4 linked regions of the Homo sapiens genome follow. The protein of the gene in region 4 interacts with the protein of the main gene of each other region in a pairwise test. Each region holds a gene or a part of one and is shown on either strand. Other genes may lie near its edges. The genes, in order: WNK3, MAB21L3, UBTFL1 and LBX1.

Region 1 (7,293 bases), on a different chromosome or scaffold from region 4:
TCACGCCACTGCACTCCAGCCTGGGTGACAGAGCGAGACTCCCTCTAAAAAATAATAATAATAATATCCATTATTTTCTTTACTTCTGCCTACTCTGGTTCTTTGCAGCCACTGGCTTTATCATTTACCGGCTCAGCAATGAACAATATAGTAAAAACAAAACTCTATGGAAGAAAGTTAAGTCAACACTACAGAAATCTAACTCCTAAAACTATAATTATTTAAGCAAATGTAAACTTGTGATATGAAGATCAACAATGGTCTAGAAGTCAGAACTCCGGGGTTCACCACTTACTAGGGCATGTCTTGTTTTTCTGGGCTTCATTTCTTTTTCAGATAGAAGGAGAAAAATACCTTTCCTACCTGCCTCCCAACCAAAGTACCGTAATAAAATTATGTACAAGGTATGATAGAACTCTAAAGAGGGGGACCTAACCTAGCTTGGTGGAGGATGCTGGGAAAAGGAAGAAAGGGAAACCAGGAAAGGCTTTCAGGAATAGCTGGTGACAAATGTTAAGTTTTAAAAGAATGAGTTCAAATTCTAGGGGAGGGGGAGAGAGAGCATTCCAGGTAGAGGGGGACATCAGAAGCAAAGGCAGAGAGAGAAACACCATAAATCTGTTTATGTTATTCCCCTTCTTAAACAATCAAGAGTTCCTAATTCACCCCAGCCTCAACCTAAGATTCCAGCCTTATCTCATTCCATTCTCCAAATATACCATGCTTACACTTTCAAGACCCAAAATGTGAATGTCCTTCATCTAGAAACATCTAGTTCAAAACTGGGAGGCCGCCTTGCCTGGTTGAGTTAGTGCAACATTTCCAGGCTCTTACAGTGCCTTTATACTTCTACTGTACTATTTAATACATTAAGTATTCATCTCAATCTGAGAGACTATGAACAGAATATGACCTTTTGTATTCAAACTGCGGGTAGCCTAAACAAGGATTACACTCTTTCCAATATCAAAGCAGAATAAAAGAAAAACAGCATGGGAATGTTCTCAAGTTTGCAACATTTCCAAGAAAACTAAATATATATCAGTAAAATGTGTAAAAAATAATCACAAAAGATTAAAATCCATAACCGTTAATCTTGACCCAGAACAGAATGAGACCAGGACAAGACATCCTTATCAGAAGATAAGTATTCAGAGAACAAAATGTTCACGTAATCTGTTGTAATTTAAACTCACACCAAAAAGCGAGTGCCAATTTTCAAAGATAAATTCGTAATGACCAAAAAAAATGTACAATTATTTTAGTTCAAAGTCAGCTTTAGTGGATTTTTTAAGACAGAGTCTCGCTCTGTCGCCCAGGCTAGAGTGCAGTGGCACAATCTTGGCTAGCTGCAACCTCTGCCTCCCAGGTTCAAGAGATTCTTCTGCCTCAGCCTCCCAAGTAGCTGGGATTACAGGCACGCTCCACCACGCCCGGCTAAGCTTTAGTGCATTTTTGCTATCCTTTAATGCAAGGTATCTTTCCCTTGAGCTGTCGAGTTTAAACAATTTTTAAACTCATCAATCCAAAGGATAGAGACCGTCTTAAAAGACACCCGCTGCTCTGTCACATACTAAGACCTCTTCAAAAGTTCTCTTGGTATTACAACTTACTATAGATGAAAAACAGATAACGGTATCTCCAAAAATTGGATACAATCACTACTATGCAGAAGATTTTCACAACTCAAAAGCTGTTTTATTCATATAATTGTCTCAATCAACAGTAACTCTTAAGAAAAAATAGCCATACTATTCGCATCTGTTTTGAGGGTTCAGTCTCATTTTAACAGTCTCTCAACCCCCAAGATACGGAGATACTCACGTGCAGGATTTCCACCCCCACCCCATTATATAAATGTTTCACCACTTTTAACTAGTCAAACAAAACCTCTTTCAGTACAGTGAAGCCACCTCACCACTTTCATCCTCACCTATCATACCATCTCCTCCCCATCCCCAACCTGTCAGTCACACAACACACACCACCCCTTCCCAAATAACACCTCAGAATCTCCTTGAGCCTAACACATTTACACAAGCCAGCAATATTTCTCACCCCATCCTGTCCCTCACACATCAGCTGAACCTCTGAAATAAATCTACTCTTTCCTTCATCCTATTCCCATCAATACAACTGAACTTCCCACACCCGAAGCGATCTTCCCTTTCAGTAGCTTCAATCTCACTTAAGTGATCACTCAGTCCTTTGTCAACCGTCTCCTGTCCCCCTCCTGTATCCTCCTCACCTTCCCCGTCCCCTGGTCTTCCATCAGCTCCCAAAGTTGTCACCCCTCAACAACAACCAAAAAAAAAATCAAAAACAAAAAAGAAAACAAAACAAAAAACGCACCTCAGCCTCAAACCTGCCCTTCCCCACTTTCCCCCTGTTCATTTTCCTCTCCGCCTATTCAGCAGTTTCGACAGCCCCTTAGCCCGGAGCCCGGCCTCGTCCGGTACCGACTGGTGAAGGCACTCACCCTGCTTCGGTCAAGCCGCCCCCCGCTAGGGCGCTTACTCCTAACAGACTCTTGGCCGCCGCTGCCTCCCTCCATTCATCCCTGGCCCATTCATCTCTCAGCCCGATCCCAGACACGCCCCCCGGCCTCCTCCCTCTCTCCTAGCGCCCCGGCCGGCCCGGGACCCTCACCAGATTAGAGGCTCTCGCAAAGGAAGACTCTCTTACTCTTTTCGCTTCTCCCTCGCCCTCTCTCGAGCCTCCTCTCGCCCCACGACGAGCCACACCGTAGAATAGACACATACACACACACCGCCTCCTCCTCGATCGCCTCCTCCGATGCTTCTTACTCCTCTCCTCGATGTCTCGAGCTCCGCTCCGCGTCGTGTGCGCTTGCGCGCGCGAGCGTCTCCCCGCGAGCCCACCGGGCCAGCTACGGCCGGTAGGTAAAGAGCGGGCGGAGAGAGGGGAGCGGGGTACGAGCCCAAGCTCGCGCTCGGCCCGGAGCTGAGCAGACGCACGCGTACTCCAGCCAGGGAATTCGGACGGGTAGGAGAGAGGGGCGGAGGGGGGGCGGGGAAGGGAGGGGAGAACAGAAGAGGGGGAGGGGCGGAGAAAGCCAACGGAGCAGCCCCAACTCGGAACCGCCCCTATCGCAGCGAGGTGCCGAGTGGCCAGCCAACTAGAGTGCGCGCACGCCTCCCGCCCCCCTCGGCGCCGCGGGAGAGAGGGATGCGCGTCGAGGAGAAAGGCTTCTCCCCATTCCAAAGAGAAAATCTCTTAGAGGAAGCACGCGCGACATCTCCTGTGTGTTCCGAAGCGCTCTCGCTCTCTCTCAGCTGCTCTACCCTCTCCCCTCAGAGAAGAAGAAGAAGAAGAAAAGTCCAAGCACACACTACTTCCTAGCCCCCCACTGCCCACCCTTGGGTCTCCGCGAGCCTCTGAATGCTGTAGCGCCGCTGTTAGGAGGTGGTACCCGCCGGCACCTTTTCGCCCGCCACCCCTGACTCCCTTTTTCCAACTCCCGGGATTTCTCGCGAGACCCATACCTGCCGGCTTTGGGATTAGAAGTCGAAGCACCGATTTACAAATACTGGCCTCCCAGTTACGTTGCGGGGGCAACAGCCACGGCATGTCTCCCCCGCCCCCCAGGACCGCAGTGCGCGCGCGCGGGGGCTGGGAAACGACCAAAGCAGGGATGGGAAAGGGAAGCTATGAAACTGATTTTTGACGGCATGTAACCGCTAGGCCTGGGCACGTGCCCTGCGCCTCGCAGACGGGTGCGATGTACCCTGGGAATTGTAGTTTTTCTTCCCACCTATGGTCCGACTCCCACCCTCAGTTTTACTTAGGCCTCTGACCGGGAGGGGGATTTCCGACGCCATTTTGCCGGGAACAATGGCCCTCGGCCCTGATGGTGGCAGGTGGGGGAGGGAGCAATGGTTTTAAGGGTTCGGTGAACCTCCTCGGCCCCTTGGTGCCATAGCAACCCCTTCAGAGACCTGGTCCCGCCCCCTCGCCGCCGCCAGGCTTCTAGAGCGCGCGCATGCGGAAAGGCTGCCTCCCACTGAGACTGGCTCTCTGTGTCTCCCACCGGCCACCTCCTTGAAAAACTCCCAGATCCTCTAGCTGGTAGTGAATGCTGCCTCCTTCGAGCTTTCGGTACATGTTAGCCTCGGCGCAGCGGCTTCAAACTGCTTCCTGTGCTATGCCAGAAGCAGTATAGAATTGTTTCCGTCATTCTCCCATGAATAATCCCGGCCCGACAGAGGAGGAAATTGAGGCTCAGGAGGGGAAATGGACATGAATTGCTCAACTTCATACTATTTGTGGAGTTAGAACTTGAACCCAGGTGTGCTCACTCCAGAGCCGAGGCATTTTTCAATCTCCCGGGAGTCATCTGGTGGCGCAGCTAAAGGGCAGGGCATTCTTTTCGAATGCCCCTCAAGCTAGGAGGCTGTGTGGGAAATATCTGACTAATGCTTTCAGCCCTCCAGCCTCGGCCCTATCACTGAGTTATCCCTTCTCCACTACCTATTTTTCTTTTCCTGCTGTAGGCCTCAGAAATCTCAGTCTTTTTCAGCTCTTTAAAACAGCACAATCAATACATTTAACTCAGGTTTCCAAAGTCCAAATAAAGTGTAATGGTTTATCTTTGACTTTGTAAGGGGGGGGTGAGTATAATGATGGGAGGCCTTGTAGCCCTATCTCTTGCCTCTGTCCCTTCCTTATTAATTTCCATATTGCCAGAATATGTAAGGAAACCGGACCATGCCCTTAATACATTCAAACTCCCATCTTTCCGTTTTGACAACGGAGGGAGATGCTGAGGAAACAATAGGGCTATGAGGTCCAGCCACTAGAATGGTGGAGATCTTCCTTCCTGGCCGATTTGAAAGAGCAAGGTGTGGTTTCTCCAAATAGCTTCACCATTCTACCTTAAGAGTCTCTGAAGTCTCAATTAGCTGAAAAATGGATGGGGTCTCCCACGCTCCTTTCCTCACTGTCCCTGAAGATAGTCCCTTTTCCCTGTTGATTGGTTGACTAGTGTAGGAAAAACAGAGGAAGAGTAGCTGAACAACCAGTAAGGGGCAATTTCAAAGTTTCAAAGGTTACCAGTTTATCCCAAGTCTTTGTAGGTCCTGACTCCCATGAGATGGCAACTAGAAACTTGTGGCCACCGTTTCTGTTTCTCAGTGTCACCCTATTCCCACCACTGCCACACACATCACCTTCATGAAAAGGCATCTAGCTCAGTTGTGACCTGCTCCTCTTCCCTTGTCTCTGAGCCTGATGATGTAGGTAATGAATAAAGAACAACACTTGGAAATGTTAGCCCTTCAATCTGCTTAGATGTTAATTCTTTTGAGCAGTACCTCTTTGATAGTTGAATACTTGTTAAAAAAAAAAAAAGCTATTGAGTAGAGTGACTTTTATGACCTTTAGAAATTTGAAAATCAAACAAGTCGGCTCCCCATCCAAATACAGGTCCTTCTCAATTTAGACCTTTTATTGACATATGTGCTCTTCTGTTTGGGACAATCTGGTCTGTAACTCAGCACAAATGCCACTGTAGGCAGAAAGGGGAGCGGGCAATTCTAGCTAATCACCAAGGTATGACAGGGAACATTCCCTTCCTACCCACTGGTTTCCACTGACTCTCAAGTGACATTTGCAATGTTCCTACTCATCAAACAGAAATTTTGATTTATATTAACTATTTGTAGTTTGGTTTTACATTGTTCCAGGAAATCATCCTTCCAATAATCTAATTCATTTTTTTCTAGAGGCTCCGGTGCCAATAAATTACAAAAAATTTAACTGGAATCATTTTTAAACCCCAAAATCCCACAGGAGTGGGGGTAGGAGGTTAGTTTCATGGCCCTACTATCTGTTGGTCTCTTTCCTACCACACAGGATGGTAACTCCTTCAGTCAACAAGATGGAGCTGAAATGAACCTCAAAGTTTGTAGTTAGCTGACCACTGCAACCATGGGTAGAGTTGTGACTGTTTCTGGAACTTAATTTCTGACCCGGTGCCCTCTTTTTAACCAGGTTATTGGGGCGGGGAGGTAAACAATGTCCATCATTCTTGATGTTCATTTCCCTTAACCCAAGTGATACCACAGTTTGGGGATCTTAGGTAATGTCCAGGCATGGGTGTAAGTGGGAGTGGAGTAAGGATATCTGCTTCTAGTTATTTAGATCCTGGCAGTTTGTGCTGAGCCCTCTGCCCACATGGGTCCTTTCCAGTGCTGTGGTCCTCTCCAATGTCTCTGCGACATGGGGCACAGAATTTTTCCCGAAGTCCCAATAGATATTGGGCCATCTACCTAGACATTCCACACAGCTCTTCCTCTCTTGAGTCTTCCCCATCAGCTAGGTGTTGCTCCTGGGAAGCTGAGGCTAATCAATGCTGCTTGAGCTCCCACAGAGATCTCTCTCTGCTCTTGTTGTCTCTTTCTCGCAAGGAGAGGGGAGTGAGGAAGAGAAGAATCATTTTTTAGGTTTGTGCAACTCTTTCTTCTAGTTTTCTGGCCCAGATACTTGGTCTCTGCCCCTACACCCTAATACCCCTTGCTTAAGGACTTATGTTTTGGAAACACAGAAACCAGAAAGAGTGGCAGAGTATTTGTTTTACTGCCTTGCCACCTCCCTCCCCTGAGGTACACCACAAAGCTATGTTATTTTGGGGGCAGAGACAGGTAGAGAAAAAGAAAAATACAGGAAAGAAAAAAAATATATTATATTCTCTAGATAATACTGAGCCACATTCTCCTTCTATTAAATCTTAGCATCCCAGCAAGGGAAAGTGTACTTCTCATCCAGGTGCCTCTGTTCAAGGCAGTAACTCCCAGGGCTTGGATGTCTGGGTGATCTTTTCTCCAGCCAAGTCTTTCCACTAGGGGAATTTCTCACCAGGATCATCTAAGGGTTATTAATGTCCTCCCAGAAGGTTCTCTTTCCTCCCAGCACAAGTTGAGTATTCCTTGAGTAAGGGCATACTCAGAAGTGAACAGCTATCTTTGGCTTAGCGACTGACTTAGAAACACTCCACGTTTCAGGCTGGATAATGCAATTTCTCCAGCCTTGCTATTGGTCTAGTTTCTTCTTCCTAGATGCAGTCTTTCCACATGTGCCCAGAGCATACGTCAGGGGGCAATTTATTTATTTATTTATTTATTTTTGAGACAGAGTCTTGCTCTGTCGCCCAGGCTGGAGTTCAGTGGTGCAATCTTGGCTCACTGCAACTTCCGCCTCCCGGGTTCAAGCGATTCTCCTGCCTCAGCCTCCAGAGTAGCTGGGATTACAGGTACGTGCCACCACCCCCGGCTA
Region 2 (7,689 bases), on a different chromosome or scaffold from region 4:
CTCAGATGATCTGCCTGCCTTGGCCTCCCGAAGTGCCGGGATTACAGGCATGAACCACTGTACTCGGCTTTGTCTTCTTTCTTAAATGCCTTTCTCACTGTCAGTGTTTTTCTGGTGGTGTCAACTGAAAAATATGCCAGCCTCACACAGCTCAGGGCAGAGGAAAAGGAGTTTCACATAGACTTAAGGAAAAGTTTCAGATAAAAATACAACTCTTTTTTTTTTTTAAACCAGGAAGGAAAATGTGAAAATGGAAACACCTTTTACTATTTGATTTGAAAATAAAGTGTCATCCAAGCCATAGCAGAAGCTTCATTATTTTGACAACTGGTCTCTGTTAAAAATAAGTTTCCAGGTTGCCCTCCAGCTTGCACCATTTGAATGAGGAAGATCCAGAACGACATTCTAGTGCGTAAAAATATAGATAGGTGGACATGCAGAGAGATGGAAACAGATATAGTCTCCCCCCAGCCCAAACCGACAAACCGAGATTTTTTTTCTTTTTTTTTTTTTAGACAGGGTGTCGCTCTGTCACCCAGGCTGGAGTGCAGTGGCACAATCTCAGCTCACTGCAACCTCCACCTCCCGGGTTCAAGCGATTCTCCTGCCTCAGCCTCCTGAGTAGCTGGGATTACAGGCACCCACCACCATGCCCAGCTAATTTTTGTATTTTTATTAGAAATGGGGTTTCATCATGTTGGTCAGGCTGGCCTCAAACTCCTGACCTCGTGATCAACCCACCTTGGCCTCCCAAAGTGCTGGGATTAAGGCATGAGCCACTGCACCCGGCCCAAACCAGGATCTTCTATGATGTACGATTTTTTAACTAGAACAGGTCATCTTTGCTGCATAGAGAGCTGGCGTTGACAGCACTGGTTATTTCTCATTCTTTCTTGTTGACCACAGGCTCTACAGTGGTAGAGTTGTTGGTGTTAAATAAACTTTTATTTTCTTCCTTCAGTCTAATATTGGGGAACTAGTCCTTTCTATATGTATTGTGATAATAATTGCAGCTAAGAAATAATGTACTTTTAATTGAAATGGCCAGATGGAGCCATGACTTTTTCAAAGACATGGGTTTTTGGCTTCTAAGTTCTACACGGCATGTTCTAATTATTGGGCAGTTTTTCAACATTCCTGACACCTTTCGGCTGTGAATAGTGGCTTCCTTCAAGTACACAACATCTTATCCTGTTGTTTTGCACTTTCTGAGTTGAAATCAGCCTTTCCAAGGAAAATTTCCTTATTCCTTTTCTACTTTTGTTGTGTTCCTAAATGAACTAATGGGAGCTTACTCATTATTTAACTTTACTTTTCTCACTTTATCTTATGCCTGCAGATGGGAGATAGAATGGGATTACATTGTAGAATAAGAAAAGGGGCCACCGTCATTTAGTCATTAATTCATGCATGCATTCATTCATTTATTAAGCAGCTACTATATGTCAAATACTGTTTCCAACAAGGTAAATCTTTTCCTTTAAGGAGCTTTTGGTACCACAGGAGCTAGATACAAGCAAAGTAACAAAATGCAGTATGATAAGAGCTAAAGTAGGAGTTTAGCACTGGGTGGCCTAGAAGCATCGTGTAGAGTCCCCCACCCAGTCTTGAGAATCAGAGAAGGCCCTGGAGCAGGTAGCAGCTAAGACAAATCTTGGAGAACAAATAGAAGCCCAGTGAAGGGGTGGAAGGTAAGGGGAGAGTCCAAGCAGTGAGCATTGTCGGTGCAAGGGTCCAGAGAAGATGGTGAGGGAGGGGGTCTTGCAGGGAACTGTAACTATTTTAGTATTGCAGGAGTGCAGAGTGCAGGGGTGAATCTTGTGTGTAGTACAGTGTTGCTTAAAAAAGATAAATTAAATAAACAAATAACCCAAACAAGTTAGAATATCCCAGATAGGATATATACTCTTGCATCCACCGCAGACCCCTATCGCTTTCCATTGTTCTACTCTATCCTGATTTATTTTATTAACCACCTGGCCTATGTAGGCATTTGTGTTTGGGATTCCCTACCTCTGAACCCAGACCAAAGATCAAATTCAAACTATCTCAGTTACCATGTCAGGTGTGAAAGGAAAGAAGACCAGCTTTTTGATGGAACTGTGAAGACCAACCCAGTGAACAATCCTACCCACCAGGTAAGACCAGGAGAATTACTCACATACATTAAAAGAAGGATCTTTCATATGGAACCAACCTAATTGTCCATCGATCAATGAGTGGATGAAGAAAATGTGGTACATATACACCATGGAATACTACTCAGCCATAAAAATAATAAAATTATGTCTTTTGCAGCAATTTAGATGGAGCTGGAGGCCACTATTTTAAGTGAAGTTACTCAGGAATGGAAAAACCAAATACCTTATCTTCTCACTTATAGCTGGGAGCTAAGCTATGGGTATGCAAAGGCATACAAAGTGGTATAATGGACTTTGGAGACTCAGAAGGGGGACGTGGGAGGGGACTAAGGAATAAAAAACTACATATTGGGTACAATGTACACTATGTGGGTGATGAATGCACCAAAATCTCAGACTTTAGTACTATACAATTCATCCACATAACCAGAAACCACTTGTACGTAAAAAGCTATTGAAATAAAAATTTAAAAACAAAAAACCAAACAAGCCTTAAAAAATAGATCTTTTTCCTCAGGGAGTGAAATGGAGTATAAACACAAATATTTATTGAGGTCTTATCATGTGCCAAGTACTATGCTAAATTTTTTTTTATATCAGGCCTTTCTATAAAAGAAGATAGCAATTTAAGCAGTCACAGATGCATGTATATAATTAAATTTATAATTTGTAAGGTGATTTTACACATCTTAAAATATATTTTATTTACTAGAATGTCACTTTATAATGTGACATTCTAATAAATAATGTCATTTTGCATAATGTTTAATGCAAACAAATAAGCATTCAGTAATGTTTATTGAGGGCCAGTTGTGCGTTAGGTACTGAGGCTTCTCTGGAGATACAGAACAGACTGGCCCCTGCCTCGGGTTGTTCACTACTGTGGACTTCAGCACATCACAGACGATTATCTCTGCCTGGTATTCTGCATTGTCAGATTCAGTCTGAGTCATCTTGGGATTACAGGAAATCTTTTAAAAAGTCAGAGTTTGTTCCTGGCTAATATGGTGAAATCCCGTCTCTACTGAAAATACAAAAAAATTGGCAAGGCGTGGTGGCGGGCGCCTGTAGTCCTAGCTACTGGCGAGGCTGAGGCAGGAGAATGGCATGAACCTGGGAGGCGGAGCTTGCAGTGAGCCGAGATTGCGCCACTGCACTCCAGCCTGGGCGACAGAGCGAGACTCCGTCTCAAAAAAAAAAAAAAAGTCAGAGTTTGTAATCCTGCAAACTTTAACAAATTTGTATATTTAAGGTTGATTTTGATCAAGCTAACCTTCCTCCTTCTTGGAATTAAAATCTCAGACACTAAGTAAATCAGTAACAAACACTTCTGCTGGTAAACCAGGGCTAGCATTATCTCCCCGGGACTTCTCAGATTGGCAGCGTAGGGTTTTGCATGCCTTGTTAACCTGACTTGTAATAAGTTCTTAGTCTTCACAATGGAAACTGAGCCAAAGCAGGTTTACATTTCCGTACTTGCATTTGGTGTGAGTCATGAGAAAGGAGAATATTTATTTTCTGAGGAAGGAAGAGAACCTGAGCTAACTTTGAATTTCCTCAGTGGCCTAGCATACAAGTGCCTTAGGCTTACTGTAATTCAATCCTTTTGCGAATCCTATATCCAATTACCCAGATATCTACATCTAAAAAAAGCTTGTCTTCATCAAACTGTCAGACAGGAGCTGTCAGAGAGTCTATTTGTGGGACTGCCCTGTATTTCAGAGCATTTGCCCATAAGGAGCTAAATCATGGAGTAGGGAATTGGGTTGTGCCCCCACAACACACCTATTCCCTGGATATGACATCCTGGTAAAATCGGACTGTGTAGCTTCCCTGAGCACATGATTATTTCTTCGTTTCCTGATTGCTCAGTTGGCCCTGTTGGTTGCTTTCCCTGCTCACAGCCGGCAATTGTCGCTGGATCGTAGGGCAAGAGAATATTCCAGTTATAACATTTTGATCAGCTGCGGTACTGGAGCAATCAAGATAGGGCAGCCACAGGTGCAAAAATAATGAAAGTTTGTGCATCTGATGACAGGTGTCTGGGGTAACCCTCGAACATTAGGAAAGACCCCACCGGAGGAAAGGGACTCACAAGTTAATGATTACAGTGAAAGCAGAAGTAACAACAAAAATGAGCACATGAGAGAAACAGTGGGACTTTCGTAATGTTGAAAATGAGGTGGAGAGAGAATTCTAAATTGCAAGTTCAGAGAAAGAGGCTCTTGCTGTCTGTGAAAAACAAATAGTTTGGCACTACTATGATAAGAAAAGCCCAGGGAATAAGATTCTGAAAAATTTGGGAGCACTTGATATCAAAAGAAGGAGATTTAGAATTACATATAGAAACAAATGGAAAATCAAGGCTGTTTTGAGGGGTGCTATCAGAGGGTCATTGGAGAGGATGTAGCTTTACAATATTTATATCAGGCTGTGCATTGGCAGGAGTTCTGTAGAAGTTGGACTGAAAGCTGGAGGTAATGACGTGGGTGGGGCACAGAGCAGCTAGGGAGCTCTGATGCGGCTTTTGCTTGGGGCAGAGTATGGGAAGATATGCAAACGCTGAGGCCCCAAATAGTGCAGTGGCCTTTGTGGGCAGCACTTACAGGTGGGCTTGGAAACACTTGCCTTTGGAACATTGTTTAAAAGTAAGTAGTGCTCCCAGAAGGGCTGTAATTTCTTTAGATTATCTGATAGCAGACTCCGTGATGTTTACCAGCTTCAAGGAGATCAGACCATTGTGAAATTTTTTTTTTTTTTCTGTAGTAAAACTAGCCCCAGCCAGCCCAACTGGGAATTTACTGCCTGAGCTGTTTTCCAACATAAGTTTTGCTGGCAAAACCAGACGTGAGTGTTCCCTCGACTCTAAAGGGACCTGTTTACACTGACTTTATTTTTACTGCCAGCTTTCAAGTTGGAAGAGGGAAATTACGTTTAAAGGTCAGCAGGTGAGCAGAAGGATTCCTGACCAGCCATTCCTGTGGGTGTGTGCCCGTGTGCACTCTGTGTACGTGTGTGTGCCTGTGTATATGTGTGTGCCTGTGTGTACGTGTGTGCCTGTGTATATGTGTGTGCCTGTGTGTACGTGTGTGCATGCTTTTCTAAATGCCAACCGTTGTGCTCTGCGCTGGCTGACAAGACCTGATCACTTGTTTGCGGGCATAATGATGGGTGTCAGGCTGGTTGTTGGGCAGTTTCCTATTTGTTTATTGTAAAGAAGGTAAATCAATCCGTGGGATTTTCTGGCTTGGAGAGCAAGGGGTGTTTACTGTCAACAGGATAAGGACCAGGAGATATAAGATACTGAGTTCCACGGTGCATCTAGTGTTGGGACAGGAGCATAAAAGGTGGGGAGAAGCCAACTACAGGGTATTTCTGACTTGGATGGAACTTTTAAGTACTTGGGTGGGAAATACAATTTGGAAAATTGCTCTCTGGTGAAAGCACCAGTCAATGTAGCTAACTAAGGTATGATTAGGTTGGACTCAAATTCAATTTTATCAACTCTTCTTTTTAAATTCTTTTTTTTTTAATTTCCCAAAAGATGACAGATGGATTTTCACAATTTGGAAATAAAAACATGAGTGAAGGGTTCGGAAGGCAAGTCTCTGGTCCATTACACACTTCCAGAAAAACTTAGTACCCAGAGACTCACATTACTGGGAGTGCTATCTACTCACAAGTGTTGCACTCCATTGAGAAAAAAAAAAAAACCAGGAAGTTGCTGTTCTACTGAGGACTGACCAAGAAGCCATGAAATACCTTACTGTGGGAGACTTAGAAGATTGCCTACTGAATAAGGTAAGGACAGACCCGGTCTCTCCCATGAACCCCCTCCCCATTCACACTACTTCCAAACAAACCTTCGTCCAGAAAGGATCTCAGGCTCTTTCTAAAGACACATAAAATGCTCCTCAGAAAACAGACTGTCACCTATAACAATGTTTGGGGGCTTAACATATATCAGCCTTACTTCTCTTTGAGGGTCTGGTACCCAGAGACATGCTGAGTATAGAATATAGAATGGAGAGTAGGAATCTGGGGAATGAGGGGGAACTCCAGCTCTGCCACTGACACTCGTGTGGTTGTGAGTCACTTAACCTGCCTGAGCCTTGGCCTTCTTCTCTGTAAAATGGGAATAATAATAGGAGCTTCATGGGGTAATGGAAAAAGAGCTAATGAAATTAAAACAAAGCTTTTTAAAGACTGTGAAAGTACTAGGTTTTTAAATATTATTATATTTTTAGTACACATCAGTTAAGAACTTAATTTCTTCTAGATGGTCTAGATGGTCATGTCAAATGTTAGAACTTGAAGGAAACTTAAATATTACCTAGTTTAAGCCTTTTCATTTACGGATGAAGCTACTAAGGCATGATGTTAATGTTAAAACCAAAATATTTAAATTGACTAAGAAGTAGGCACTGGTCTGCAGTTTTCATGCCTTTACAAGTTCGAAAGAGAAGATCATTATCATAGTGATAAGTAAAATGTATTTCTTAGGCAAAACCATTAAGAGAGATAAATAAGGAAAACCTGGGATGATAAAAACTAGAGTAAACAAAGTGATTTCCCATTAATTCCTCCCTTTGAGGGCTCTAAGTGGAAGAGATATTGGCTGGCATTTTTTTCGTGGGTCCTGTATTTTTTGTAAGAAAAAACTCCAAACTTTTTAGTGTGGTGTTCAAGTAACTTCAACTGCTCTATCTTTCTACCCTCCGCTCCCCCTGCATTTCCAATAGCAGAAATCCTAAACAGTGTTCGACACGTTGAATCCAGTGTGTGCTCATGTTTTGTTTGGCCTGTAGATTATTTCTAATGTTTTTCACAAACATTTCAAAATAGATTTTGCATAGAAATCCAGATTTCTGTCTTTCCAGGGGAAAAAAATCAGAATATTTCGCAACTACAGGTCCCAGTTTCTTGCCTGGAAACTGTGTGCTGGGGCTGAGTGTTTGCTAGCCAGAGCACGTGCTGGCCAATTCTCAGGAGGCTGATCCTGTGTCTGACACTTGCTCCTGGTCCCCGCTGCCTCTCTCACGTGTGTCCCCTACTCCATTCCTGTAGGTGGTTGAGTCTCCCATTTCTGCCCAACAAGAACTGGGCCCTGAGCAGGCCAAGGGCCCCAGCTCCTCCTCGCCACTTTTCTGGCTCATATTCATCCTTCAAACTCAGAGTCCACTTTCTCAAGAAAGAGTCCCTGACACCCCAGCACAAAATGATTTTGCCCACATATTCACTCCCGTTATAATTAGTATTACTGGCACCATTTATTTGATCATGAGTTTGTATATTAACTCCTGACACTTTTCTATTATCATCTTGGTTGGCAACTTACATGTCATATCATTTCATTCTTTATAAGTTTCTGGAGGGAAGAACAGTGTCTTGCATACCTTTCTTTCCTTTGACATTCAGAGTATCTTGCACATATATGATCAGAAATATCTTTAGAGTTCGTTAAAGGCAAGAGTGGTGTGGAAGGCGACAGGTCAAGGTGCATACAGGATCTCATTTAACCTAATCAACAACTATGTGATGTACATAT
Region 3 (6,192 bases), on a different chromosome or scaffold from region 4:
TGTGAACTTCTGGAGGGAAAGTCCTAGATATTATACAGTTTTATCTATAGCATGATATCTAGAATTTAATTGGAAACCTTTATTGTAGAATATGAAAAGTTCCATGTTGTCTTTAACTTCAGGTTGAATGCAGCCTTGGTCGTCTGCAAAGTTTTTAAGTGCTCAAAGGCACTTTTTTATTTTCCTAATATTCCACTGAAGTTTTTATTTCTGTCATGGTATTTTTATTTTACAAATCTATTTTGTTGTTTGAATCCTCTTTTTAAAGCCTCTTGTTATTTTTTGATATTTTTATTATATTTAATATAGTTTGATAATAAATATCATACATATGACTTTGTGAAGCTACTATATAAATGTTTATTTTATTTTATTTTATTTTTATTTTCCTTTTTTGAGATGCAGTCTCACTCTGTCACCAGGCTGGAATGCAGTGGCGTGATCTCAGCTCACTGCAACCTCTGCCTCCCAGGTTCAAGCGATTCTCCTGCCTCAGCCTCCCGAGTAGCTGGGACTACAGGGGTGCACCACCATGCCCAGCTAATTTTTGTATTTTTAGTAGAGATGGGGTTTCACCATGTCAGCCAGGATGGTCTTGATCTTTTGACCTCGTGATCTGCCTGCCTCAGCCTCCAAAGTGCTGGGATTACAGGCGTGAGGCTCTGTGCCTCGCCAAATATTTATCTTTTATGTTACAAAAATTTAAAAAACTAACAATTCATACAGCTTCATAAAGTCACAGGAGTTCATACATTTTGTTTAAGATCAAAACTTACTCTCAAATGGTTCAGGAATAAAATGTCTTAAACTTCTAAGTATTTCGTAAGTGATTGTGATAAAAAATGAAAAATAAAAATTAGATGGATTATGACACAGAAAAGGGAAAATCACACAACATTGACAAGGTCAATTTTTTTGAGACAGAGAGTCTCACTCTGTTGCCTAGTCTGAAGTGCAGTGATACAATCAAGGCTCACTGAAGTCTTGACCTCCTGTGCTCAAGCCATCCTCTCACCTCAGCCTCCAGAGTAGTTGGGACTACAGGCACTACAAGTGTGGGCCTGGCTAAATTTTTGTTTTTGTAGACATGGGGTCTCTCCATGCTGCCCAGGCTGGTCTGGAACTCCTGAACTCAAGCAATCTTCCTGCATCAGCCTCCAAAAATGTTCAAATTACAGGCATGAGCCACTGTGCCTGGCCCTATATAAATTCTTAGTTTTCCCAGTTTCTTTCCTTCTTTCTTTCTTTCTTTCTTTCTTTCTTTCTTTCTTTCTGTCTGTCTGTCTGTCTGTCTTTCTTCCTTCCTTCCTTCCTTTCTTCCTTCCTTCCTTTCTTTCTTTCTTTCTCTTTCATTCTTTTTCTTTCTTTCTTTCTTTTTCTTTCTTTCTGTCTTTCTTTCTTGTTTTTGTTTTTTGTTTTTTTTTTTGACAGGAGTCTCTCACTTTGTTGCCCAGGCTTGTCTCAAACTCCTGAGTTCAAACGACCCTCCTTTTGGATCTTAGGCTCCAAAAGTGCTGGGATTACAGGCATGAGTCACCATGCCTGGTCACAGTTTCGTCATATATGTAATGGAACAGCAAGCATAAAATGAGCTCACAGAGTTTTAAGGAGAAAAATAAGATATTAATAATAAATGTAAAACATTTGCATATTAGGTTCCTGGGGCTGCTGTAATAAACTATCACAGATAAAACAATAATTTGCTCTCTCACATTTCTGAATGCCTAACATTTAAAATCAACATGTTGATAGAGTGGTTCCCTTTGGAAATTCTGAGGGGAAATCCACCTCCTGCCTCTCTGCTAGCTTCTGGTGGGTGATGAGAATCCTTGGCTTTCATTGGCTTGTGGCAGCATAGCTCTAGTGAGCTCTGTCTCTGCCTCTGTCTCCACATGGCTGTCTATGTGTCTCAGATTTTCCTTTTATTTTTTCTCTAAGGATACCAGTCATTGGACTTAGGTCCCACCCTAAACCCAGACTAATCTTGTTGGGAGATTACCAAGGTAGTTACATCTGCAAAGATCCTATTTTCAAAAGTCCATATTCACAGGTTTCAGTGGTTAGGACTTAGACATATATTTCGGGGGGCCACTCTTTAACTGGCAATTTGAAAAAAATGTCTGGCTCAGAAAACAGCCCCATAACAACAAAAACACAACTGTATTTTTATTTCCACTGCTTTACGCACATCACCCTAACTTTTACAATTGGGAAGATGGTACTTCTTTTTTCCTAAATTCAGATTCTGAATATTTCACACCTCTTTTCTAATGTCAATTCTATGTTTTTTCCCTTTTTTCTGAGTTAGAATACATCTTGTATTTATTTATTTTTATTATTTATAATCACCACAATATATTTGGAAGTCTGACATTTTTTATTTCTGAACCATTTGAGACTATGTTCTGATCTTAAACACAAAGTATGGAATCCATTATTTTTTCTTTTTTTTAACTTTGATTTGTGAAAGTTACTTTTTTCTTAATTACTCTTTTTATTTGTTACATTACTAAGTTTGTTTTATTTTAATTTTCATAGGACATTGATGAAATGACTTTTTTATGATTTTTGAGATGAAAAATTTAATAACTTTAAATTTTACATTCTTTTAAGTTTTTCACAGTTTATTTTAATGCTTTTTTTTTGTAAATTTTAATTATAGTTATTTATATCTTCATTTATTATGGAACAACTTCCCAAAAGTCTTTTTCACATAATAAATTTAATATAATATATAAGCTATTATTTATTTTCTCTTCTGTCTCAAATATGGACTTTAATTATATTCCAATATTTCAGAACATTTTAATCTATGTTTTGAGACATTTGTGACTTACGTGATATTATGACTATTATTCTTTACACTTCTAGTGAATTTTTAATGTCATTCAAAGGCTACATCCTTCTATACTCTACTGAGAATTAAAAATAGTTCTCAAAAATATTATTCTCAGATATTCAGAACTCATTCTCAGAATTTCAACTTCCACCAGTATCTTAACTCTGTTCTCTTTCCCTTCTAATGCATATTTTCCCCCTGAAGGCCCACTGTTACACTCCTTATTCACCCTCCATTTAAGATTCGGTTTTATTTAATGTTGTATGTATTCGTACACAATTTTATTTATGTGAGGCTTAGTCTTAGAATAGAAGATCATCCTAAAAAGACTAGTGAAAGAGTTATGAGAATTTCAAGAGTGAATCCAGAAATCACGTGCCAGAAGAATTACTTCAGGCAAGACAGAATTGCTAAAAAAAAAAAAAAAAAAAGGAGTAGTCATCAGATCTGCCACATTTTCAAGTTTTGTAATGGAAAATGGCAGGTATTCTGGAGGGAGTTTCTGGAGGAAGCCAAACTTTCACTGAGGCTTAAATATGATGAACAATTAACCAAATAAAGTTGAAATGTTTTATAATTGTCATTAAATCCTTGATATTTAAAAGGAGAAGCAGTATGGTTCTTAGAAAGCATTCATTCCCGGCCCAGGAGTGGTGGCTCACGCCTGTAATCCTAGCGCTCTGGGAAGCCGAGGCAGGCGGATCACCTGAGGTTGGGAATTCGAGACCAGCCTGGCCAACATGGTGAAACCCCATCTCTACTAAAAAATACAGAAAAATTAGCCAGTCGTGGTGGCACATGCCTGTAATCTCAGCTGCTTGGGAGGCTGAGGCAGGAGAATCACTTGAAGCTGAAAAACAGAGGTTGCAGTGAGCCCAGATTGCCCCACTGCACTCTAACCCGGGCGACAAGAGTGAAACTCCGTCTCAATTAAAAAAAAAAAAAAGAAATAAAAGAAAGCAAGAAAGCATTAATTCCCATGCACTGGTCCTGGAGAATCTATAATTCAGTCTTTTATCACAGGTTCACATTCCCTTATAAAAAGGTAACAGTTGGATGCATGTCTGGAGGAGCTCTTGGGCTTGTCCGATTGTATCTTTAACTTCTCATCTGCACCTTTAGCTATGGCTATTTGGGCTGTGCTTAGAAAATGGCCATACTCAGGGCACTGTAGAATGAACAGTCCTTCCTGTTTAGGCATTTCTCCTTCCACTTTAACTTCTGACTCTGTCTTCAGGGCATTTCTGTTATATTAAGCTTCTTAAGTGATGAGTGGTCTGGTGTTTGTGTTATGCAACTCAATTTAAGATAGGTTCATGTGAGATCTGGCAGAAAGCAGGCTGGGGTGGGGTGTGGAGATACTGAATATTGTGCATGTAGCATATGAAAGGCAAACATAAATTTAATTCAGAAACAGGCAATGTTTATTTATAGTTAAGGGTCAAATGAATTATACAAGGGACATATGACAAATAGGATGTAATTTGCTTCATTAATCCAAATGAAGGAGAGTAACTTTCTTTCTCCTCAGAAATACAGAATCACACATACTGCAATACTTCCAGAAATAAATCATCCACTGAGTCTTAAAAGTAAAGAACTCTGTGTTCTTGCTCTGGTGTCTACATAACCGGGATCTTATAAGTAAGCCAAAGACATCTAAATGGCTTTGCCTAGAAGCCAAGGCCATTGGTCCAACAAAGACATCTTGAGGTTACTGGAATGCATGGAGAATAATCGCCCATCTGATGACAACAGCACGTTTAGCTCAACTCAGTCACACATGGACTGGGGAAAAGTAGCTTTTAAAAACTTTTCTGGTGAAATGTGCAGACTCAAATGGTTAGAGATTTCTTGCAACTTGAGAAAATTCGGCACTTTGAAAGAATTAGTCCTGGAAGCTAAGAAATGTGTTAAAAAGATGAACAAAAGCCAAAAATACAGGAACGGTCCAGACTTTCCAAAGAGGCCCCTTACTGCTTACAATCGCTTCTTCAAGGAGAGTTGGCCCCAGTACTCCCAAATGTACCCTGGGATGAGAAGCCAGGAACTGACCAAAATCCTGTCAAAGAAATACAGGGAACTCCCAGAGCAGATGAAACAGAAATATATTCAGGATTTCCGGAAGGAAAAGCAAGAATTTGAGGAAAAACTTGCTCGATTCAGGGAAGAACACCCTGATTTAGTCCAGAAGGCCAAGAAATCTAGTGTCTCCAAGAGGACTCAAAACAAAGTGCAAAAGAAGTTTCAGAAAAATATTGAAGAAGTGAGGTCTCTTCCAAAAACGGATCGATTTTTCAAGAAGGTAAAATTTCATGGAGAGCCTCAGAAACCCCCCATGAATGGATACCACAAGTTTCACCAAGATTCCTGGTCAAGTAAAGAGATGCAACATTTGTCAGTGAGGGAGCGCATGGTAGAGATTGGCAGACGCTGGCAGCGCATCCCGCAGAGCCAGAAGGATCATTTTAAGAGCCAGGCTGAGGAGCTGCAGAAGCAATACAAGGTGAAATTGGATCTCTGGCTCAAGACTTTGTCACCTGAAAATTATGCTGCATACAAAGAATCGACCTATGCTAAGGGTAAGAATATGGCCATGACAGGAGGCCCGGACCCCAGGTTGAAACAAGCAGATCCACAGTCCTCATCAGCAAAGGGTCTGCAAGAAGGGTTTGGGGAGGGGCAAGGGCTCCAGGCTGCAGGAACAGATTCATCACAGACTATTTGGGTAAACTGTCATGTCTCCATGGAACCAGAAGAGAACAGGAAGAAAGATAGAGAAAAGGAAGAAAGCAGTAACTCTTCAGACTGCAGCAGTGGAGAAGAAATAGAAGTTGATGTCTGAGGGCAGTGGCTCTAGTGCAGCTTCCTTGTTTTTTTTTTTTTGTTTGTTTGTTTTCTTTTCTTCCTTCCTCCCGCAAAGTAGGACAGGTTGGGAAGAAAGAAGCAACTTGGTGCAGCACTCTCCTACATCAAGATTATGAACCTGGGAGGAACTCTTTGGGAAGAATAAATATAAGTTTGAGCCAATACTGGCCTTATCCTTAAAAAAACAAACAAACAAATATCATCCCTTTCCCGAGGAACTTTATGCAATTAAGGCTTCTGAAATGAAGAGATGATTACGTTGTGGGGTACACACTGTATTAGACTGAATATTTCTGAAGCAAGAAGCTTTGCTTTACTCATTTTTGTCCTGCCAAAGGTGGTAGGGGGATACCCATAAGCCTGGGACCCAAACTTCCCTGTGGAAATGTTTTTCAGGACTCCTGCACTAAATCTAAGGTCGGGGATATTTGATGAAAGGTGGGGTAGGTGTCTTAAGAGAATTGTCCCACTCTTGATATCTCTCT
Region 4 (6,821 bases):
CACTGCTGGCCAAGTTAACTTGTTTCAAGCAGTGTCAGACCCTTTTCTCTAAAGGAACTCTGGCCTGAGAGTCAATGCTGGTGCTTATACAAATAATCTGGAAATGAATGGGGGTACCAAAACAATCCAGAGTGAATCCAATGGAGTCTTTGGGGGTTTAAGCGAATTCTTCTCCTGTGTTAAGGTTTAACCTGTTTTGTTTGGGTCTGCAGGGTCCCCTTATTGTGGCAATTCATGAAATGCTGTTTCCCTCTTCTTTGTCTGGAATATTCCCTAAACTGAGGGAAAGCAGATTTTTGGCAGAATGATCCCTTCCCTATCCACTGAGAAAGAATAAACCTGGACCCTGGCTGTTTAAGCAGCAAACAGGAATTGAGGATCATGGTAGCATATAGATTATGCTCTGAAGACAGGTATTCCCTCTGTGGAGCAGACTCTGGGAATCAGCTGCTTTCAGCTCCAGGTGAGAAGATGCTGGCCCAGCTGACTGGGGGTGGGGAGACCCCCAGAGTGTCTGCCTTGCCCCAGCATGGGGGCTCAGTAGGGGATTGGGCAGAAAGATTGGAGCCCAGAATGTCAGGGCTGGCTCTACCCCCACTGACCCTGTGTTACTCATTTCTGGAATCCTCCTAATCTCTAAACTCCTCTGAGGGGCCCAAACCATTCCCCTCCACATTGCACAATCATGTATACCCCATTTGCTCTATGGAAAGTCATTCAACCGATATTCAGCGGGAGCCCGGTGTCTCCTAGGACTTCGAAGGTCCGAGATGAACTGGAATACCCAGAGGAAGGCTCCTGCCCTCAGGTCTGGCAGAGGAGGCAGGTAGGGGTCAGTACACAAACCCAAAACATACCTCATTGCTCTGCAAGAGGGGTACAAGAGGCAAGCGGATTGGGGTCCCAGGAGTCCAGAAGATTCCAGACCCCCACACAATGCGGTTTTTCAGCAGCGAAGGTAGGGGTGGGACCACGGTGTTGGGAAAAGGTTGGTGTAGCAGGTGGGCTGGTTTCCAAAGGTGGCCTGGATAAGGGGATCTGGGTGAATCAAAACAACAAAACACAGGGTGATACCACAGACTTCCCCACATCCCTGCACCTCACACTGCACTCCACACCCCAGCCATATGGTGTGCCCAAGTGTGTTTAACCAAGAGGCCAACCAATTAGGTCAAAAGAGCCAAGCCATAGGATTGGACAGCAGGTACAGGTCAGCCAGGGAAGAAGAGGTTTGGTGTTGGTGGTGGAGGTAACTCAGCAGATGATTGTGAGACGTCGTGTTCCTTTTGACATGGTGTGGCTGAAGACTAAAGATCTCAGTACTAGCCAGCAGGATAAGACATTAAGAACACGCCAAGCAGAGGGACCCCTCTGCTCCCCAGTTCATGTTCCCCTTCCTGTCAGCTTCCCAGTAACCCTGAACTCCGCTGGTCTTGAGGATCTGGGAGATGGGCAACAGCAGGGGATTGGCTTGTCCTTAAAGTCCTATCCTGTGGGCTAGTACCAGATGCGATGCAAAGACTGAAGAGGACAGGAAGGGTGTGGAAGTATGGGAGGAACTCTCTCTCTCTCTCTCTCTCTCTTTCTCTCTATTGGGATCCAAGGGTCCTTGTTCCTGGATCTAGAGGGGCCTCCCTGCCTCCCTGCTAGCCTCACTTGCCTGAGGCTCTGGGTCAGGGGGTTGGGGTTATGGCAGGAAAAGGCTGAAATGGGATCCTGAGGGCAGGAAGTGAGAGGACTGACCCCTCTTGGCCCCAGAGCTTCCAAGCCACCCAGATTCAGCTCCCCAACGCCCTCTCCCACCGGTCCGCCTCTGCTGGTCTCTAGGCTCTGACTCCTCTGTTGCTAGGCCCAGCAGCACCTCGTGGCTCCCAGGGCAGCGCAGAAGAGTAGAGACAGGTCTGCCCTGGAGTGGGTCTGCAGCTCTGAGGGAACTGTGATTCCCATTCTCACCAATCCTGCCTCTGAGCATTTGTCTTCCCCCCACTCGCTTACTGCCACCCCGAAAATGCAGGACAAAGATGAGTTAGAGGGTAGGGGTTCTTCCCAACATTCACAGAACTGGGGCACCAAACAAGAACCCTTTCTCCCTACACTGTCCTTTTTACCCCAGAGAGCTGCCAGCCACAATTCCAAACAAACAACTGAAGGTGAGATCATGAAACCTATCTCTGCTGTGCAGAGGCCCCCTACGCTGAGGCATCCAGAGAAAGAACCTGCTTCCCGCCCCGGAGCCCAGCTTAGCTCACTCCCTCTCTGGGGTTAGATATGAGGGGAGAGGGGGCAAGAAATCCTAATCTTCCCATTCCAACCCTTGGCCTGGGCCACAAATCCTCACTTTGGCCTCTCTGGGCCCTTTTCTGGTCCAAGCGGTGCTGCCCAATGCCCAACCTCACCGCCCACCCAGGAGTTTACAAACAAAGCCAGGGCCAGGGCTGTGTGTGTGTGGGAGGGGAACAGCCCTTCTCCCTGGACTCCAACCCCCTCTAGGTCCTCCCCTCCTTTCTCCAAGGGCAGAAATGGAAAATTAGTAAGGAGGCCAGTGGCCCCACATAAACAGAATGGGGTAGCAAGACAGGAAGGCCTGAGGGCACAGCCCTGCTGGAATGCCTCAGGGAAATGAAAGAAATAGCTGAGTTCAAACACACCTATATACCCACAGGTTCACACACATTTACACAAATATACGCATGGAGAAACACACACAAACACACATTCAAAAACACAAACACCTTCAAGTAACAATGCACACAACATGTTCTCCCGATATTCACAGATCCCGGGCCCTAAGGTCTTTAGCCCCAGCCTAACTGGAAGCCTGGCCTCCCTGCGAGTTCCTGAGAGCAAAGCCCCAGCCGCGGCCTGGCTCCCGCCGGGCCCCCGCCCCGCATCCGGAACAGCTGGAGTCGGCCTGGCCATGCACTCAAGCCGGGCGCTGGGCTAGGCGGGGCCGGCAGCGGGGCCCCGGCCGGGGCCCGGGCGGAGCGCAGCAGGGAGGCACGGAGCCGGCCCCGTTAGCCCCGGCACCTGGCCTGGCTACTCTTCAGACGCCCATCATCAGGCCGTTGGTGGCCCCAGCCAGCCTGGGGAGCGGCTGCCGGAGGAAAGTGAGCAAGATTGCCGGAGGAGGTAGGGCGGCCGCTTCGGAATCAGGCCGGGGAGAGGCGTCCAGAGCCGCCAACAATTCCCTCCTCCGCCTCTCCGCGTGGAGAAGGCTGAGCTCTCCGACTAGCCCCCTCCCCCAACCCCTGGGGTCCTCCACCCCCTTCCCGCGTCGCCCACCCAAGGCTGCGCAGCCGGCTCTGACCTCCTGCGGGCCAGCGCAGGAGGGCTTCAGATTCCCTCTCCCCAGGCGCGTCGCCCAGGCAGTGGGGTGAGGGGCAAGAGGGTCAGAGGTAGAGGCGCTGGGCTCTTGATCTCAGCTCCGCAAAGTCCACTCTGGGTGGCAGCGGGGCCCACCCGGGCTCCTGGTCCTACCTGGCCCGAGCGGCGGCCGCGTCCCTCCCGGGCTGGGGTTCCCACCACTCTTTCGGGCTCCACATCCCGGGTCGGAGAGACCGAGACCTTCGGGCCGGTGCGGTCATTGCAGCTAGGCCGGCGGGAGGCGGGTGCGCCAGGAGCGCGGCTCGCAGTTTGGGGTGGGGGCGGTGGCTTTTCAGTCGCCCGAGGTTCGGGTGCAATAAAGGAGCAGCTAATGTAATTTACAAACAGCTCGGGCCGAACGCAGCGCAGCGCCCGGACTGACAGGCGCATTAGGCAGGCTAATTCCAGCCGGCTCCTCCTACCCCCGGCCCGCTAATTAATGAGCTTCCCAACTTACAGCCGCCTGCATTGGACAGACAGAGAGTGAAAGAGAGGGCGAGGGAGAGGGAGAGAAGGAGAGAGAAGGGGGGAGCAGAGAAGAGAGAAGAGAGAGGGAGGGAGGGAGAGCGAGAACAGGAGGAGAGAACAGAGGCAAAGAAGAGAGGAAAAAGGGAGAAAGGAGAGAGAAAGAGAAAGAAGTGCCGCTGCAGATAATTGATTACACCGCGATCAAGGCTAACTTGTTAGCAATAGTCAATTGCCCCGTCTCTCCGCCTCCCTCGCAGTCCGGGATCGGCGCCCTCGCCTCGGCTCTTCCAACTGCGGCCGCCAGGACCCGGGGCCAGGAGCCACTGCCGAGCCACCTGACACCTTTAAATAGCACCGGGGTTGGCGAAACTGGAGCCCCGCGCAGCGCGCCCCGGCTCCGGCCCCGGATTGCTGGAAGCCCCAGCAGCAGCGGCGCCCGCGTCAGCGCCCTCTTCCCGGGGCCCCGCGCTGTTCTCCCCTCCTCAGCCGCCGCGCTAATCGGCCCCGCGCCCGGCCCGCGCCCTGCCCAGTGCGGCCTCCTTTCCACCCGCCGCTGCCTGCCCGCGCCGTCCGGCGCCCGAGCTGCCCGCGGGCTGGGTCCCCGCGGCCCGAGCCGCCCCGGCCGGGACCCCGAACAAGGCCGAGATGACTTCCAAGGAGGACGGCAAGGCGGCGCCGGGGGAGGAGCGGCGGCGCAGCCCGCTGGACCACCTGCCTCCGCCTGCCAACTCCAACAAGCCACTGACGCCGTTCAGCATCGAGGACATCCTCAACAAGCCGTCTGTGCGGAGAAGTTACTCGCTGTGCGGGGCGGCGCACCTGCTGGCCGCCGCGGACAAGCACGCGCAGGGCGGCTTGCCCCTGGCGGGCCGCGCGCTGCTCTCGCAGACCTCGCCGCTGTGCGCGCTGGAGGAGCTCGCCAGCAAGACGTTTAAGGGGCTGGAGGTCAGCGTTCTGCAGGCAGCCGAAGGTAGGCGCAGCTGCTGGGTTCCCCTGCACCCAGCGCCTCGCGCCCTGTGCCCTGCGCGCTTCGTCCCCTATGCCTCTGCTCGCCTCTGCCCTCTCCGGCCGCCAGGGCCTTCCAGCCTGAGCAGCTGCTTATGGGAGTGAAGATATGTGGGACGGGACCCAATCCTTATTTCCCAGGGACCTCTGGGTAGGCCAGAGCTGGGGGGTGGCAGGAGAAGGGTGGCCAAGCTCTTTCCGCAGTCTGCTTGCTTTGCCGGGCTCCCTTGCGTTCCCAGTGTCCTGGGCGCTCTTAGCCCGGCTACTCGGCGTGGGGAATCGAGAGTCTTTTGCCGGGGACCTTATGGGTAGGGTAGAGTTGAAGTGATTGGGAAGGGATGGAGAACCAACATTCACACCGCAATTAGGGTGTCTCTGTCTGGCTTTCTCATACCCTTAGAGACTTTGGGTCTTTCAAACCAACTCTTAGGTAGGGGGCAGAGACCAAAACAATTTTTCCTAGGGACTTCTGGGAGACCAAAGACAGGAGATGGTTTGCCATAGCCAAGACTTGCCCTGGTCCTGGAGGCTGAATTAAATCTGAGAAGGGAACATTGGTAGACTGCAGGCCGGACAGGCCTGGGTGGGTTACGGAGTTACGGGGGCGAGAGCCAGGGTGGGCTTCCTCTCTCCCAACGCGAGCCTACACTGTCCTTTCCTCCCAGGCCGCGACGGTATGACCATCTTTGGGCAGCGGCAGACCCCTAAGAAGCGGCGAAAGTCGCGCACGGCCTTCACCAACCACCAGATCTATGAATTGGAAAAGCGCTTTCTATACCAGAAGTACCTGTCCCCCGCCGATCGCGACCAAATCGCGCAGCAGCTGGGCCTCACCAACGCGCAAGTCATCACCTGGTTCCAGAATCGGCGCGCTAAGCTCAAGCGGGACCTGGAGGAGATGAAGGCCGACGTAGAGTCCGCCAAGAAACTGGGCCCCAGCGGGCAGATGGACATCGTGGCGCTGGCCGAACTCGAGCAGAACTCGGAGGCCACAGCCGGCGGTGGCGGCGGCTGCGGCAGGGCCAAGTCGAGGCCCGGCTCTCCGGTCCTCCCCCCAGGCGCCCCGAAGGCCCCGGGCGCTGGCGCCCTGCAGCTCTCGCCTGCCTCTCCGCTCACGGACCAGCCGGCCAGCAGCCAGGACTGCTCGGAGGACGAGGAAGACGAAGAGATCGACGTGGACGATTGAGCGGCGCCCCGGGTCTTCCGCCGCCCTGGGCTCCTAGCGCTCGAAAGCCCAACGCCTCCCGGACCGGACCGCCGAGGGGAGCTGGGACCTCCTCTGCCAACTCCCGCCTCCTCCCCTGTCCCCGGCCCCGGACTCGGCTCCTGGCAGCCGCCTCTTCCCTCTCGAAGCAATAAACCCAGGCTGGCCGGCCGGGCCGGCCGCCACCAGCGGCCTCCGCCGCCCCGGAAGCCCTCGCCGTGCAATTCTGTATGGCTTCTATATAAATATTTAAACCTATATAGCGGGTTCTTCCCACCGCAGCCTGATTTTTCCTTTCTTTTATTATTATTTTTTAAATCTCGGAGATTTCGATGTTTTCAAAGCTCTCGGGCTGCCGGGTTTGCTGAGGGCGAGACAGAAACCAGGGCGGGGAACACTAACCCTGCGGTCTAGGGGAGTGGCAGCTCCGGCTGTTTTGATTTTTCTCTGCATGTGGCGAATGCACCGGCCCGCTCCTTCCTCGCCTCCCTCGGCCTTATTGCAGTTGACTTCTATTTCCTCGGGCCTTTTTTCCTCATGTGGGAGGGGAAGAGGTGGGCAGTCAGGTCCTGACTTGCAAGTTTCAAAATCGATCTTTCCTCCCCACCCTCTGAGAGAAAAGTCTGTTTTCGATGCCATTTCTGCCTCCTAATGCCCACTAATGCTGTTTTTAAGATTCCTCCCTCCCTCCCGCATTTCCTCGGACTGACTGTTGGAGTCCGGCTCTTAGGGACAATGCAGGGGGAAATCCAACCAACCAACTATCGAAAACAGAACCCAA

What was found.
Region 1: the proteins of LBX1 (region 4) and WNK3 interact in binary tests that used the Homo sapiens proteins (3 or more experiments, as listed by UniProt).
Region 2: the proteins of LBX1 (region 4) and MAB21L3 interact in binary tests that used the Homo sapiens proteins (3 or more experiments, as listed by UniProt).
Region 3: the proteins of LBX1 (region 4) and UBTFL1 interact in binary tests that used the Homo sapiens proteins (3 or more experiments, as listed by UniProt).

What each region holds. Positions count from the first base shown.
Region 1 is NC_000023.11:54,355,037-54,362,329, forward strand, and holds the start of WNK3 (serine/threonine-protein kinase WNK3), read right to left. Parts: upstream 3,011-7,293; 5' UTR 2,650-3,010; intron 1-2,649.
Region 2 is NC_000001.11:116,106,722-116,114,410, forward strand, and holds the start of MAB21L3 (protein mab-21-like 3), read left to right. Parts: upstream 1-4,677; 5' UTR 4,678-4,789; exon of another isoform or gene 4,790-4,907; 5' UTR 4,908-5,089; intron 5,090-5,685; 5' UTR 5,686-5,894; coding exon 5,895-5,942; intron 5,943-7,689.
Region 3 is NC_000011.10:90,081,448-90,087,639, forward strand, and holds UBTFL1 (upstream-binding factor 1-like protein 1), read left to right. Parts: upstream 1-4,502; coding exon 4,503-5,684; downstream 5,685-6,192. UniProt on the Homo sapiens protein: Essential for proliferation of the inner cell mass and trophectodermal cells in peri-implantation development.
Region 4 is NC_000010.11:101,226,471-101,233,291, reverse strand, and holds LBX1 (transcription factor LBX1), read left to right. Parts: upstream 1-3,828; 5' UTR 3,829-4,476; coding exon 4,477-4,801; intron 4,802-5,501; coding exon 5,502-6,022; 3' UTR 6,023-6,298; downstream 6,299-6,821. UniProt on the Homo sapiens protein: Transcription factor required for the development of GABAergic interneurons in the dorsal horn of the spinal cord and migration and further development of hypaxial muscle precursor cells for limb muscles, diaphragm and hypoglossal cord.